Linked DNA regions of Homo sapiens: region 2 is linked to region 1. A link means that fine-mapping ties the variant in region 1 to the expression of a gene that starts in the linked region. Tissue or cell type: whole blood. Region 1 holds a variant in brackets; the other region holds the start of a gene. All regions are shown on one strand. Distances are from middle to middle.

Region 1 (8,103 bases):
CTCAGCACTTTGGGAGGCTGAGGTGTGCAGATCACCTGAGGTCAGGAGTTGGAGATCAGCCTGCCCGGTGTGGTGAAAACCCGTCTCTACTAATAATACAAAAATTAGCTGGGCATGGTGATGCACGCCTGTACTGCCCGCTACTTGGGAGGCTGAGGCATGAGAATTACTTGAACCCAGGAGGCAGAGGTGGCAGTGAGCCGAGATCGCACCATTGCACTCTAGCCTGCATGACAGAGACTCTGTCTCAAAAAAAAAAAAAAAAAAGTGTGTAGGTATGTATACCTAATAAAATTAGCGCTTTCTAAAAATGCAGTGCTTGTCATTTACTATTAAGTCAAGCCATATGAAATCACATTTTGTCAGTAAATAAATGTTCAGATATCCACAATCTTATACAGTTCTAATAGATACTCAAGAAATTTTGTCGACATGAAGAGAGTCAAATCATAAAATGGTAGACTGAAAAAGAACTTCGTGGAGAATTCTTTTCTTTTTGCAAACAGAGGTGACTGGGAGGTCGAGGCTGCAGTAAGTCATGGTCATGCCACTGCACTCGAGCCTGGACACCAGAGTGAGACCCTGCTTCAAAAAAAAAAAGAAAAAGAAATGATTGCACTGCCTTTTTTTGGTTTTGGAACAAATATTGTGATAATAACTTTTACTTATAAATGTAGCACAGAAATCTTTTACTTTGTAAAAGTCCCTGAATAGAAAGTCAGGAGACCTGTTTCTCCTACCAACTAGTATAATTTTTGGAAAGCTCATTGTTCATCAGTTTCCTTATTTGTAAAATGAGGATGTTAGATATGTAAGATCTCTGTATTAATTAGGATAGTTGATGCTAACTCTTTAACATAACTAGCATTTCAGTGACTTAACACAATAATGGTTTATTTCTTGCTCACGTCATAGTGTGAGTGTTTAGCCTGTGGCTGTCATGTAATTGAGGAATTTCAACTCCTTCCATCTGGTGTCTTGGAGTCTCCTGCTGGATTCTTTGTATTTAGTTGGTTGATAGCAAAGAGCACCAGCAAGCAGAATTTCATCAAGTGCTTTGTAGTGAAGCATAATTCTTCAGCTCACATTGCACTGTCTAGAACCCACTCACATGGTCTCAACTTCTAACTCCAAGGGAAATAGGAAATGTCTTTCTGAGCACCCAGGGAGAAGAAACAGAATCCCCATCTTTGCCACGGTCCCTTTCATTTTGTACATTTTTAAAATTTTTTTATTTATTATTTTTTTTAAAGACAGAGTCAAACTCTGTTGCCCAGGCTGGAGTGCAGTGGTGTGATCTCAGCTCACTGCAACCTCTGCCTCCCAGGTTCAAGCGATTCTCCTGCCTCAGCCTCCCGAGTAGCTGGGACTACAGGCACGCTCCACCACGCCCAGCTAATTTTTGTATTTTTAGTAGAGACAGGATTTCACCATGTTGGCCTGGATGGTCTCGATCTCTTGACCTCATGATCCACCTGCCTCGGCCTCCCCAAGTGCTGGGATTACTGGCGTGAGCCACTGCACCTGGCCCATTTTTTGATTCTTTATTCACACCCAAATACTTTCTCCTGTTGCATATTGCTTTTTGTATCTTTGGTTACTCTGAATTTACTTCCAAATTTCTTGGAAGGAGTTTAGTATTGCAAGTCAAAGCAGCCCTTTGGTGCTTGCTATGTTTAGGAGAGGGTCTCCCCCCAACCCCTGCCATCCCCAGATGAGTATATTTGTTATTTTTGTTAGTAGTTTCATTTGTGGTGTAAGTTTGTCTTTTATATTGTCATGGCTTGCTTAGTTTTAAATGATTAAAAATACATCAATTGCAAAAATCTCCCAGTGCTTGTATAAGAAAAACAATAGAATATTGAACACAGCCAACTTCAGAGGGAAAGTCATTGTCTACCATGTTCAGTCTAGCAGCCTGCTAGCAGAAGGGAAAACAGACAAACCTTATACTGTCTTTTAAAGGTCAGCACATGCAGACTTAGAGACCAATAGAGAAACACATTCCAGTGAGCAGGCAAAGTTCTCTTTGACTTCTGCCCACTTAAGAGTAAACTCAGAGAGTCAGCAAAAGTCTTTCAGTTGATTTCAGCTGCTGTTTTGGAGTCATCTCCATCTTTCCGAAGCCTCCTTCTCTTTTCTCCTTTTTTGTTCTTTCTTGATACATTATATTGTACATGTTCATTTGTATGTAAATACAAAATATCCTTCTTTATGGATCCATCTTATGTTGGTAAGTTTGATGAGAGTGTTCTAATTCTAAGCCTTGTCTCCTTAAAATATATAATTATCTCAGAATAATGCCATAGTTCAGTTTGCCTTATGTTTGGATTAGTACTTTCTTGTGTAGTTCTCTTTCAGTAAACTGCTCCCCTCCCCTGTTTTTAATTGCACCTTTTTTCATATACCATTTGCACCACATGTCTAAGTCATTGGTCTTTTTAAATTACACTATGGAAAGGTTAATTTTGGACAGAGTTGTTTCTAGATCCTAGTGCATTATCGTCATCCTAGGATTGCATTTCATTTCTCTTGTAGGCTAATGGTACTATTTTTTGGATATTGCAGCTTTAATAGGATGCTGTGTTCATTTTTCATTTCCTGGAGTCTGTGCTGAAGTTCATTTTCAGAAAGAATGCCTGGAAAATAAATTTTTTTTTTTCCCCCCTGAGATGGAGTGTCACTCTGTTGCCCAGGCTGGAGTGCCGTGGCGCAATCTTGGCTCACTGCAACCTCTGCCTCCCGGGTTCAAGTGATTCTTCTGCCTCAGCCCCCTGAGTAGCTGGGACTATAGGCGCATGCCACCACGCACAGCTAATTTTGTTGTGTTTTTCGTAGAGACGGGGTTTCACCATGTTGGCTAGGATGGTCTCCATCTCTTGACCTTGTGATCCGCTCGCCTCAGCCTCGCAAAGTGCTGGGATTACAGGCATGAGCCACCACGCCCAGCCAATAATTTTTTTTAAATTGTGTGTTTGAATTTCCCATTTTAGCCTTCACTTAATGGATGAGTTGGCTGTAAAAATCTAGCTTCAAAATAGTTTTTCTCAGTTTTAAAGGCATCACTTCATTTTTTAAAAAAAATCATTTAGTGTTACAATTAGAAATAAGCCCATCTGTTTCTTGTAAGTTGGTAAGTACTGCTGAGGGGAATTTCCCTCCCTCCCTTCTTGCCACCTTGCCGAGGCTGTATTCAAATTCCTGGGCTCAAATGATCCTCCCACCTCATCATCTTCTTTTTGCTTTTCTTTTTTCCTTCTTTTGTCCCTGTCTCTCTACTCTCTCCATTGTCTGTTCGTTTTCTTCATCTGCCTCTGTGATCATGAAAATATTCGCCATGTTATTGTTTACCGTTCACATTTAGGGCTGCCATCCACCTGGAATTACTTTTTGTATATACTGTGAGGTAGAGCTCAAAATATCCAGTTGACCCAGCACCACTTATTGAAAAGACAGTTAATTCCCCCACTATTTTGCAGTGTCACATTTGTCAGATATTAAGTATCCATATGCATGTGGTTCCGTTTCAAAACCATTTTTTTGCATTGGCCTCTTGTTTTGTTTTGTTTTGTTTTTCCATATGTTCAGCACACCAAGTACATTGGCCTCTTTCTTGGTGATTGTGCAGGTACCACAATGTTTTCATTACTATATTTATGTATTTTTAGTTTCAAACATATGACATTGCCATAGGTTAGAAACTCATCAGTTTTCAGCATTTTCACATGGTTCAATCCATCAGTAAGTTTTGATATCCAGTAGTTTAAGTTCCTCTAAGTTTGTTCTCAAAGATTATCTTAGCTGTTCTTGACTTTTTAAATTACTATGTAAAACTTAGGATCAACTTTTCAGTTTGATTTGAAAAGAAAAAACCTACTGGACTTTGCTTGGGGTTATGTTAAATCTATAGATTAGGCCGGGCGTGGTGTCTCACGCCTGTAATCCCAACACTTTAGGAGGCCAAGACAGGTGGATCACAAGGTCAGGAGTTTGAGAACAGCCTGGCCAACATGGTGAAACCCTGTCTCTACTAAAAATACAAAAATTAGCCGGATGTGGTGGCGCACGCCTGTGGTCCCAGCTATTCAGGAGGCTGAGGCAGGAGAATTGCTTGAACCTGGGAGGCGGAGGTTGCAGTGAGCCAAGATCATGTGCCACTGCACTCCAGCCTGGGCAACAGAGTGAGACTCTGTCTAAAAAAAAAAACAAAAACAAACAAAAACTATAGATTAGTTTGGGGATAGTTGATACCTTTAAAATATCATAAAACCTTAAAATAAAATAAAACCTTATAGGTTTTTCCTAAAAGCACTCCCTTAGTAAATCACTTGTACAAAAATCCGTGCCTCAGATTCTACATCTAGTAAACTGATTCTAAAACACCTTCCTAACAAGGGGGAGTGTGATGTCTTTCTATTGTTAAGTTGTATTAATCCTGTGTTGCATTTCATTTCAGTGAATTTTATCTTGAATGGATTAGGTAGATTGTTGATTAATTCAGTGACCCTCAATTGTGGGTGCCTCTCGGACTCAACTTTAATGAGATTTCTCTGTGTCATGATTACCCTTACTGCAAGAAAACCAACAACACTGAGATTTTTGGTGCAGTAGCACATGCTTCTAGTCTCAGCTACCTGGGAGGTTGAGGCTGGAGGATCGCTTGAGCCCAGGAG[C/A]TTGAAGCTGTAGTGTACAATGAGCACACCTGTGACTAGCCAATGCACTCCAGCCTGGGCAACATAGTGTGACTTGTCTCTAAAAAAAACAAAACAACAACAACAAATAATACTCATATTGCTTAACCCTGTCCCTGAACAATTCTGATCCAGCGTGTTTTTTTTGTTTTTTTAATACTTTTAATTCAGATTTTTACTTGTATTTCAGGTAAAATATTAAAAGTTATGTTACTAATAACTTGAAAGATCTCTTCAACTTTTGCTGTTCAATTTTCATTTAATAATGATATTCCCCCCCTCCTTTTTGAAAGCATCTGTAAGATATTAGGTCAAAGTAAGGCCTTTGCCACGACTACAAAATGCTTGTTAAGTACTCCCATAGAGTTTGTATCTTCTCCTTCTTGCTCAGAAAAGCTGAGCTACTCTACCCTTAGTCGTGCCTAGAACCAATACTTAGAAGAACTATGAGGGTGCTTCCAGCTGTGCAAACATCAACCCCAGCAAGAGAAGGCTGGTATGGTATGGAGCAGAGCGCACCTAGCAGGACAAATGTGCATTTAATGAGAGCCTGTGAGGTTTCAAGTTTATTATATTTAGATGTCCAGGATAAAAGGTGAGAAAGATGCTATCCTAGCCATCGAGGAACTCAAGCGTTAAGGGGAACTCTGGGTGGGACACACATTGTAAATAAACAATTACAAGGGTGGGCATGGTGGCTCACACCTGTAATCCCAACACTTTGGGAGGCTGAGGCAGGCGAATCACTTGAGGTCAGGAGTTCAAGACCAGCCTGACTAACATGGTGAAACCCTGTCTCTACTAAAAATACAAAAATCTCCGTCTCAAAAACCCCACAAAAAACAAAACAAAACAAAAATTATAGAATTGGCAGCACAAATTCCTATGTCCTCTTCTACCTTCCACTTTTCTTTATTTTCACTGATATAAAATAGAGTGAAACTTCACTTTGCTTAATGGGAGAAGTTTTTCTTTTGTTATCTATTATTTTCAAGACAGGGCCTCACTCTGTAGCCCAGGCTGGAGTGCAGTGGTGCTATCACGGCTCACTGCAGCCTTGAACTTCCTCTGCTGAAGTGATCCGTCCACCTCAGCCTCCCAAGAGCTGGGACCACAGGTGTGCAGGCTAATTTTAAAATGTTTTCTGTGGAGACGCAGTCTCAACTGTGTTGCCCAGGCTGGTCTTGTACTCTTGGGCTCAAGCAGTTTTCCTGCCTCAGCCTTCCAGAATGTTGGGATTATAGGCATGAACCACCATGCCCAGCCAAAAGAGAGTTTTTTCTTTAATAAAATAGTTCTCAAAAGCTAAGAGCTGATCAAGTATGAATATTCTTCCTTTCTTCCAATCTCCTCAGCACTAAGTCATCCTAAAGTTACATGATATGCTTATTACTTTCTGACAGATATATGAGCTGATAACTATAGAGATTTAATATTTTAATAATTATAAAGTTTTAATATTTATATGATCATATTAACATGATGGTAGTGGCTGATATCTTTCTCTCTTTCTCTCTCTGTCCCTCAGAGATGTGGTCTCACTTTCTCGCCCAGACTGGAGTACAGTGTTGTAATCATAGCTCACTGCATCCTCAAGCTCCTGGGCTCAAGGAATCCTACTGCCTCAGCCTCCTGAGAGGCTGGCACTACAGGCACACACCACCATGCCCAGCTAATTAAAAACATTTTTTTTTGTAGAGATGGTGTCTTGCCATCTTGCCCAGGCTAGTCTTGAATTCCTGGGCTCAAGTGGTCTTCCTGCTTTGGCCTCCCAGAGTTCTGGGATTACAGGTGTGAGTCACCATGCCAGGCCAGTAACTGGTCGACCATCTTGAATATTTGTTTTTGCCACATTGCATCATGTCATGCTTTTCTAAAAGCAGAGAGAGCTATTTTTATTGCTATGCCTAATAATGATAAGATGACCAGCATGGAGAGCTGGTTCGTACGGTTACTCCTTACTGGCTTTCTTTCTATAATTCCAGACAACATGCTTGCTCTTGTACAAACTGTGTTTAGAAAGTGGAAGAAAATAGGTGAATATTCTTTTTTATTTTTATTTTTTTGAGACAGAGTCTCACTCTGTCACCCAGGCTGGAGTGCAGTGACACGATCTTGGCTCACTGCAACCTCCACCTCCCAGGTTCAAGTGATTCTCCTGCCTCAGCCTCTCGAGTAGCTGGGACTACAGGTGCACACCACCACGCCCGGCTAATTTTTGTATTTTTAGTAGAGAGGGGTTTCACCTTGTTGGCCAGGATGGTCTCAATCTCTTGACCTCATAATCCACCCACCTCAGCCTCCCAAAGTGCTGAGTGCTGGGATTACAAGCATGAGCCACCACACCTAGCCAAGGTGAATATTTGTAATTGGTGATAACCTTTCAGCCTTGAATCTGTTTATTCTTTTTCTAGTTGTGAAGAGTTTTTGTAATTTTGGAACTTCTGATTAATTTCAAATTAGATTCAATTTCTAATAACTTTCATCGTGTCATTTTAGAAATGTGTTTTTAGCCCCTTGTTTTGTTGGTTTTTATCATTTTGGCCTGTCTCCTCTGTAGTCTACTAGGAACAGAGAAGGTGTGCACATCACTTTGATGTGGTCCTCTCTTCTGGGACCCAGCAGTTTACAGGAGCTGGTATATACAACTAACTACAGTGGGGGGTCCCCAACCCTCGGTCTGTAGATTGGTACCAGTCCATGGCCAGTTAGGAACTGGGCTGCACGGCAGGAGGTGAGCAGCAGGTGAACAGCATTACATTAACTTTGCGATAAGTGTGCCTGAGTTCTGCCTTCTGTCAGATCAGCAGTGGTTTTAGATTATCATAGGAGCGCAAACCCTATTGTGAACTGCACATGCGATGGATCTAGGTTGCATGCTCCTGTGAGAATCTAATGACTGATGATCGGAGGTGGAAGAGTTTCATCCCGAAACCATCTCCTCCCTCTCACCCCTCCTGCTATCTGTGGAAAAATTGTTTTCCACGAAACCTGTCCCTGGTGCCAAAAGGTTTGGGGACCACTGAACTACAGTATAGATCAGACTCTACTGTTACAAGTACAGATGATGTATTAGTTCTGAATACTACTGGGAGAAAGATTCTAAAAAGCAGTCACAGAAAAGGTGGTAAGACAATTTATGTGGACCTTGATTTCAAGACTTTCACAAATGAGGAGGGAGAGAAGATAACTTCAAGTTTGGAGAGCAAATGAGCATAGGGTGTACAGTGATAATGTAAGATGGTAGATGGTCCCATGTGACTAAATTGTAGGGAGACCCTACATGGAAAGCTGCTGATGATTATGGTGGGTGATAGGACTGAGTCTTGTCAGTCAGCCTTGATATTACACGTAAGAGTTTGGATTTACAAAAAAAAAAAAAAAGAAAAAAGAAAAAGACATCTAGGCATTG
Region 2 (8,087 bases), 990 kb before region 1:
CACAGGCCAGAGCGCCAAAGCTCCCAGAAGTGGCCCTGTCCCCAGCTAATTTTCACAACTCGGAGTCCCTTGCTTCCAAACACAGCCACCATGGCCTCCAAGTCAAGGTCTCCATTAGGCTCTGGCCGTACCCGGAAGCCATGGATAAGATAGTGGCCAAGCAGGTTCTGCACTCGCTTTATCATCCGCAGATGCCCACCAAAGTCCAAGCTGTACACCAGGACATCGGGACCCTCACCTAGATAGAGGCAAAGAGCCATGTCAGAGCTAGGTACCTAACTCTGATGACCCACAGGGAAGAGATGGGGATCAGGGAAACTTCTCGGCATGTAGCCTATGAATGCATCAGGACACACAATCCTGCAGCTTGAATCTTAGAAAATCCTTGGTCTCGGCCGGGTGCGGTGGCTCACGCCTGTAATCTGGGCACTTTGGAAAGCCAAAGCCAGACTCTGTCTCAAAAGAAAAAAAAAAAAAAGAAAATCCTTGGTCTCGGCCAGGCACGGTGGCTCACGCCTGTAATCCTAGCACTTTGGGAAGCCCAGGCGGATGAATCACCTGAGGTCAGGGGTTCAGGACTAGCCTGGCCAACAAGGTGAAAACCCCATCTCTACTAAAAAATTAGCCAGGTGTGGTGGCACGTGCCTGTAATCCCAGCTACTCAGGAGGCTGAGGCAGGAGAATCGCTTGAACCCAGCGGGTGGAGGTTGCAGTGAGCCAAGATCATACCACTTCACTCCAGCCTGGGCGAAAGACTCAAAAAAAAAAAAAGAAAAAAGAAAATCCTTGGTCTCAGCTTCAGCTGGACTTTCAGTGCTGACTTTGTGCTTCCCTCATCAGTCATTCTTTTTTTTTTTGAGACAGAGTCTCATTCTGTCGCTGAGGCTGGAGTGCAGTGGCACCGTGCAGCTCACTGCAACCTCCATCTCCTGGGTTCAAGCAACTCTCCTGCCTCAGCCTCCCAAGTAGCTGGAATTACAGGCGCCCACCACCACACCTGGCTAGTTTTTTTTTTTTTTTTTTGAGACGGAGTCTTGCTCTGTAGCCCAGGCTGGAGTGCAGTGGCACGATCTCAGCTCACTGCAAGTTCCACCTCCCGGGTTCAGGCCATTCTCCTGCCTCAGCCTCCCGAGTAGCTGGGACTACAGGGGCCTGCCCCCATGCCCGGCTAATTTTTTGTATTTTTAATAGAGACAGGGTTTCACCGTGTTAGCCAGGATGATCTCGATCTCCTGACCTCGTGATCTGCCCGCCTCAGCCTCCCAAAGTGCTGGGATTATAGGCGTGAGCCACCAAGCCCGACCAGTTTTTATATTTTTAGTAGAGACAGGGTTTCACCATGTTGGCCACGCTGGTCTCGAACTCCTGACCTGCGGTGATCCACCCACCTTGGCCTCCCAAAGTGCCGGGATTACAGGCGTGAGCCATTGTGCCCGGCCCCCTCATCAGTCACTCTTTTTTTTTTTTGAGACAAAGTCTCACTCTGCCGCCCAAGCTGGAGTGCTGTGGCGCGATCTTGGCTCACTACAAGCTCTGCCTCCCAGGTTTACGCCATCCTCCTGCCTCAGCCTCCCAAGTAGCTGGGACTACAGGCATCCGCCACCATGCCCGGCTAATTTTTTGTATTTTTAGTAGAGACGGGGTTTCACTGTGTTAGCCAGGATGGTCTCGATCTCCTGACCTCATGATCCGCCCACCTCGGCCTCCCAAAGTGCTGGGAATACAGGCGTGAGCCACCGCGCCCAGCCTCATCAGTCACGCTTGATGTTCACTTCAACCACAAATTTCTCAAACTCAGAGCCTCCTCCTCACCTCACTTTTTTTTTTTAATTAAAAAAAAAATAGAGATGGGGCCTGGCACAGTGGCTCACACCGATAATCCCAGCACTTTGGAAGGCAGGAGGCTCGCTTAAGCCCAGGAGTTTGAGACCAGCCTGGGCAACAGGGCAAAACTCCACCTCTAAAAAAATTATACAAATGAGCTGGGCATAATGGCGCATGCCTGTAGTCCCAGCTACTTGGGAGGCTGAGGTGAGAGGATCTCTTGAGCCCAAGAGGTGGAAGTTGCAGTGACCTGAGATTGCACCACTGCACTCCACCCTGAGCAATAGAGCAAGACTCTGTCTCAAAAAAAAAAAAAGTAAAATAAAATGAGAAGGATTTTGACAATGCAAAAAGAAAATAAAAGATGTAAAATGAGAAAGTCTAATCCAGTGGTTCTCCACAGGGGGCAACTTTCCCCACAGGAGACATCTAGCAATAGCTGGAGACACGTACGGCTGTCTCCAGGGGTTGTGCTACTGGCAAGTAAGGCCAGGGATGATGCTAAACATCCTACAATGCACAAACAGCATTCCAACAAAGAATTATCTGGTCTAAAAGGTCAATCGAGGCAAGATTGAGAAAACCCTGGTCTAATCTAACAAGACTGGGTGAGTGTAAGGGGAGGCCAACTTGAGGACACAATATTTAGAGTTAGGATTCAAGGATAAGCAGCAGTTAGCCAGAGGAAAGGAGGCGGAAGAGGGGGACTGGGAAATGTTGGGGCGGGGGGGGGGGGGTGGGGAGCAATGGGAGGGTTTGCAGCTTTCTTGGTGGAGAAAACAGCATGTATGATTGCCCTGAGATGGGCAAGAGCATTGAGTATGGTGGATGGAACAGGAAATGAAGAGCTCAGGAAGAGGCTAGAGAGGCCGGGTATGGTGGCTCATGCCTATAATTCCAGCAATTTGGGGGGCTGAGGCAGGCGAATCACTTGAGGTCAGGAGTTTGAGACCAGCCTGGCCAACATGGTGAGGCCCCATCTCTACTAAAAATACAACAATTAGCTGGGCATGGTGGTGGGCACCTGTAATCCCAGCTACTCCGGAGGCTGAGGCAGGAGAATCACTTGAACCTGGGAGGCGGAGGTTGCAGGGAGCCGAGACCGTGCCACTGCACTCCAGCCTGGGTGACAGAGGAAGACTGTCTCAAAAACAAACAAACAAACAAACAAAAAACACACACACACAGAATTGTAGCTATATAAAAGTCACTTTGGAAGCCACAGAAGTAGGTGAATTCACTTGCAGAGCTTCTTAAACTGCATTTCCCAAGTTATTCCCCACCTTAAAACCCTTCAATAGGTTCTCCCCACTGCCCTTAGGGATAAAGTCAGATCAAGGCCTGAAACAATGTGGCCTCTGCTCGCTTGTCCAGCTTCCTTTCCTCCCAGACTCCATTCCTGCTCTAACTTCACAAGAATTCCCTCCTTCCCCCAAAATGACAGATTCTTCCAGCCTCAAGGCCTTTGGCATGCTTACCCTCTTGCCAGGAACTCACCCCTTTTCCTAGTTCACTCTTGTGGTTCTTTGAGTTTCTGCTTCGTTGTTCCCCCTCAAGGAGCCTTAGGAGTTTAGCTCGCGGTAGGAACTCCGCGCTCCAAGAACCCCCACACCAGATCAAAACTGGATCATCCCCACCCCATACACACACCCTCTTAGGACTGGTGGCAACTCACTCAAGGCCTGACCGCCAAGGCCCTGCCTCAGGACCCTTATACAACTCAGCAGCACCAACATGGGTCATTAGTGGCTTCATGTAATGACTGTTCGAGACCAGCCTGGACTCTGACACCTCAGGTCCCAGGCCTCGCCTGTCCTTTGCGACCCGGTTCTCCTTGGAGGGACCTCCACACCTGATTTCCTGGACCTCAACCATCTCAGGAGGGGGTCTCAGCCCCTGCTTCCCCGGGCACCGCCCCCTACTCGGAAAGGTCTTATCCGCCGTTTTCCGCGACGCCACCCTCCTCAGAGGATCTTCACCCCCACCTTAGGGGGAAGAGACTCATCCCGCCCTCGAGAGGCCACACCCTTGCCCTCTCCCGGCCCCGCCTTCCCCAAGAGGCCACACCCCCTGAGGGGCCGGGGCCGCCTCCGCCTCCTCCTCCTCCTCCTCCCTCCGCCCCCCCCAGCTCGGCCCCGTCTCCTTCGGAGAGGCCAAGCCCCCGCCCATCTCCTAGAAGGGAGCACACCCCCTCAACCCTCAGCTCCCGGGCCTCCGCCTCCGCCTCCGCGCGGCCGCGTTCCCCTGCACCCTCCCGCGGTTCCACCCGCCCTTTCCACGCGGGCTGAAGTTTATGAAGCGCCGCGGCGGCCACATCAGCTTTGTCTCTCGGGCCCCGCCCTCTTCAGGTTGGCCCTCGTCCCCGCCATCTCCGGGGCTCCCTTCCCACCTCCGATCGGCCTCAACCTGCTGCCCGTCCTTCTCCTCAGGGCACCCCTTTTGTCCCTGTGGCACCGCCCCTGGGAGGCGCTGTTTCTTTCCCCCTTTCCACCAGGCGTGCCTCAAGCCAAGCCTCACCCGCCAACAGCCGGTCCCCCACGCACTCCAGACCCGTCACTGGGAGGAGTATAAGCTCCGAGGTTGCCCGCGGCCAAACGTAGTCCTCGAGAGCGTCCATGTCGATCCTCGAGGTGCTGAGGCAGCCACGGCTAAGAAGGGAGCTGAACTCTCGCGAGAACGAGCCTTCCCAGCGCGCCGCGCTGCCCATCAACAGCGCCCTCAGCTACAGGTAGCAGAGACCAGGGCGCCCGCGGCGGTTGTCCAATGACGACCCTTCGTCCCACGCAATCCAGCTCATCATTGGCGGGGCCCGCGGAGGGGCATCCCGCCCCTCGCCCCCTCACGTGACGCTTGCGGGGCGCTCCCAGCTGCCAGCCCGCTGCACCTATCGCGGACTCTGTTTCGCCGACCCGGAGTTTGTCGGGCCCGGCGGCTCGAACCTTGTGGTTTTTTATTTGACGGGGCAGATGGAGTCAGTACACAATAAATAACATGAATATAGGAACTGCGCCGTATCGCGGCTGGCGGGGTGGGGCAAGACATTGGCCAGACCTTTAGTCTGCAGCAGGACAGAAGGACAGCCGGACCCCTGATCTTGGGCAACTGGCGACCCGCGGCTGGGAACCGGGGCTAACTCTTCCCTCAGAGTTCCACGCGCGCATCGCGGTAGGCCCGGTCCAGAGCCCACTCGGGCTGTGAGTCGGTGCCCCCTTCTCGGGCAAGGCGGGCCATCTCCTGTTGGAACAGCGCTTGCCGCGCTCGGCTGGGGTCCACATTAATCCAGTTGTTGGCAATCCACTTGGTGCCGCGCGTGACCAGGCAGCCCCCGTGCAGCGAGTAGTCGTCTACGTCACCCACCCAACCTAGAAGAGGAGGGTGACGTGAGATCCTAGGCTGGGCTGGCCAGAGCTTGGCCTCATAGGCACCAAGAGCATGACCAAGGTGGGTCCAGCTATGCATTCCTTGTGTAGCAAACACCCAGACCTAAAGCTTCCTTGGAGGCTCCTCATCTCAGCCCACTAATGTATAGTCAACACTACTGGCCCTCTGAAACCAGCTTTCTTGCTGTTGGGCCTGTCCATATCCCTTCCCATCCTGGGTTAGCAAGGGACATGTGTCCCAAGCCCCAGGGAGTAGGAAGGCTGGGGCATCAGGGAATGATAGGGATGGATATAACCCAATAAGCAGTACAGGTCCTGGGGCAGTCTGCTAAAGTCACTAAGGATGGCCTTTGGGAGGCACCAGGAGCAGAAAACTATTTGGAAAGCAGCCAGAAACAGCCCTCCATTGTGGCAGACGGGGGCTGGGTAAAGGGAAGCTGTACTCAGGGCACCCCCCCCAGGCCTGGCCATAGGCCCTCACCTTGCCCATCAGGCAGGTAGTTGTACCAGAAGACTGCTGTGCCCTGTTGGGGCTTGACACGCAGGTTTCCCTTGTCACAGTGCCTCCGTGTGTCACGGAGGTCCACGTCATCCTGAATCAGACTCTGTGGGCAGCAGGGTGGTGGGGTGTTCAACCTGTCCCCACTCTATGGCCAGGCCAGCCAAGGGTGACCAAAGGGAAACCAACCAGATATGCCCAAGGAATAATTTGGGCCCACATCCTTAGACCTGGAGAGGTGTGTACTTCACTTGTCTAAGCCCCTGCCAGCCCACAAGAGTAATAGCCCAGTTGACCCTTACCATTTCATCGTAGGTTCTGTTATCTGCTACAGGGAAAACAGTCTCGCCCCCACCAGTGACGTTGTTCAAATAAAACAGCACTGTCATGTAGCTGTAAGGCAGGGGGGGCACTGAGCAGGTCCCCAGTTGTGGATGCTCCCAGGGGCTTACCTGTGGGCAGGATAAGCTGCCCAGGTTCCTGTTGCCAGGGACCAGGACAGACTAGGATGGGAGACAATAGGGCAGGCCAGTGCCAAAATGTCCCTAGCCCCTCCTTCCCCGAAACCCAGTCTCTTACTGTGAGTTGCAATGGTTTTTTGGCCAAGATCACAGGTGCACTTAGTTAAATGCCATGGCCCTGAGCAAGGGCCTGGCAGGGAAAGGTAGGCTAGCAGAAGCAACAGGGCGCGCTGAAGGGCTCCTTGGGGATGGGAAGGGGCTGGGCCAGAACAGCCACCTGAAGAGGAAAGAACTGGCTTGACAGGGGAGGGAGGCACAGCTTCAGCTTCTCTAAGTGGAATCAAGATCAACACCTGGAGGAATGGGCAGGACAAGCTAGGGGCCCAGCCTTGCCCCTTGCTTCAGAACTCAGGGGGCAAGTTTTGGTGTCTGTGGGTACATCAGTCTGTGTTGACTCCAGTGGTCACGATGACCAGTAGCCACCCCTTTCCAGCCATTGGGTAAACAACTTGTGGGGAGAGGTGAGGGCATCACTAACCGGGATAACCCAGTGATCTCCTGGCCCCATGCCAAGGGGCACGCCCACAGTGCAGGGCTGTGCCTGTGTCATGGGTGTTCCTGGTCTGAGGATTGAAGGCAGCCCCCAGTTGGGAGATACTTGCCGGCAGGAGGTCTCGAAGGGTACAGACTCGTTGGCTACCAGCTTGGTATGGGAGCAGATGGTCTCTGGGTACACAGGCCCACTGTCCACGTGGGCATGGTAGTGGCCCCCCTCACCATATCGAACAACCTGCAGCGGCTCGCTGAGCTCCACGATCTCAGGCGACAGGCGAGTGAGGCGCAGCACCCTGGTGGGCAGCAGGCATTTGGCTGGGCAGCCCCAGGCAAGGTGGTGATCTGAAGGAGCTGGCCAAGGTGGACCCTAGGCCTGCCACAAGCTTTGCCCCTACCCACCTCCCCTGGAAGTCCCTTAAGCCATCTCAGACTGGCCCTGTAAGAGCAGGAGGGGGTTACTCATGATGATCCTTCTCCCTCAGATGCCAAAGACAGAGACACCTGCTATGTGGAAATGTTGACATTTCCACTAAATAAAGGGGGCGGGGAGTCCTGAGGTCCTCCTCCCTGGAAGAAAGTTGTTTATTTAAAAACCCTTTTCCTGCTGTGACGGGGTCAGATAAGGGGTCAAAGATAAGAGGTCATTTATCTAATCAGAAAGAAGTGCTCAATCTCTATCTAACCCCAGTTGCCCATTGTGTGCCTGCAAGGAGGGCTAATTTGCCTTTGTTAATTGCCTGTCTTTCAGTGGGTCCCAATCCTGGTCTAACAAATGGAACTTAATCCCAAATGGGTTAATCCATTCTGTCCTCTTGGCCCCAGACAAGGACTTCTGTGGAGGCCCTGCCCAGTCTTCTCCCCCTGCTCCAGTGAGAACAGCTTCAGGTGCTCACCTCTGGCGGATGGCACGCATGATGTGGTGGGCACCCTCACCCTGGTAGAGCCAGGTATGGTGGCTGTTCCGCACCAGCTCACTGGACTCTGCCTTGTGGCTCCTCATGTACTTGTGGAAGTCCCGAAGGTCCATGTTGGAGAACTCCTGCAGACTCAGCACTCCTGCACAGGGCACCCACCATCAATGCCCACCAAGCCCATATTGGGAGGCAACAGTGGCAGGCTGCACTTCCCTACCTACCCCAAAGGCAGCAGCAGCCCCTGACCTCAGGCACTGAGGGGCCTTGTACACTTGTCCCCCACCTGGACTTTTGGGTCAGATGAACCTGGTTTCTGTCACATCAGGCCTTACAGGAAGACCCAGAGCAGTTCCTTTTCTCAGTTTAAGCCCTAATTTGGCCCTAAGAAGAAAGAGGCCCACCCCCTATTAGAGTGGCCAGAGAAGGTTCTCCAAAGGAAGCTTGAGCCATATGG

Evidence for each region. PIP is the estimated chance that this variant, and not a neighbour inherited with it, causes the effect.
Region 2: it holds the start of WDR6, and the variant in region 1 is fine-mapped to the expression of WDR6 in whole blood (INTERVAL, PIP above 0.99).

The regions. Positions count from the first base shown.
Region 1 is chr3:48,017,457-48,025,559 of GRCh38, reverse strand. It overlaps a transcript of MAP4 not described here. Among named protein-coding and RNA genes, the nearest start is that of MAP4, 5.1 kb to the right of the region's middle. The variant C/A (reference allele first, on the strand shown) is at 4,674.
Region 2 is chr3:49,003,786-49,011,872 of GRCh38, reverse strand. WDR6 (WD repeat domain 6) reads right to left here and starts at 4,482. Exons shown (of 6, transcript NM_018031.6): 1 at 4,342-4,482; 2 at 1-238. The coding sequence starts at 4,441. It overlaps P4HTM (prolyl 4-hydroxylase, transmembrane), which reads right to left. Exons shown (of 9, transcript NM_177939.3): 5 at 7,613-7,775; 6 at 6,827-7,012; 7 at 6,006-6,096; 8 at 5,686-5,809; 9 at 4,720-5,186. The coding sequence ends at 4,966. RefSeq lists silencers at 3,808-3,987, 4,528-4,577 and an enhancer at 4,716-5,704.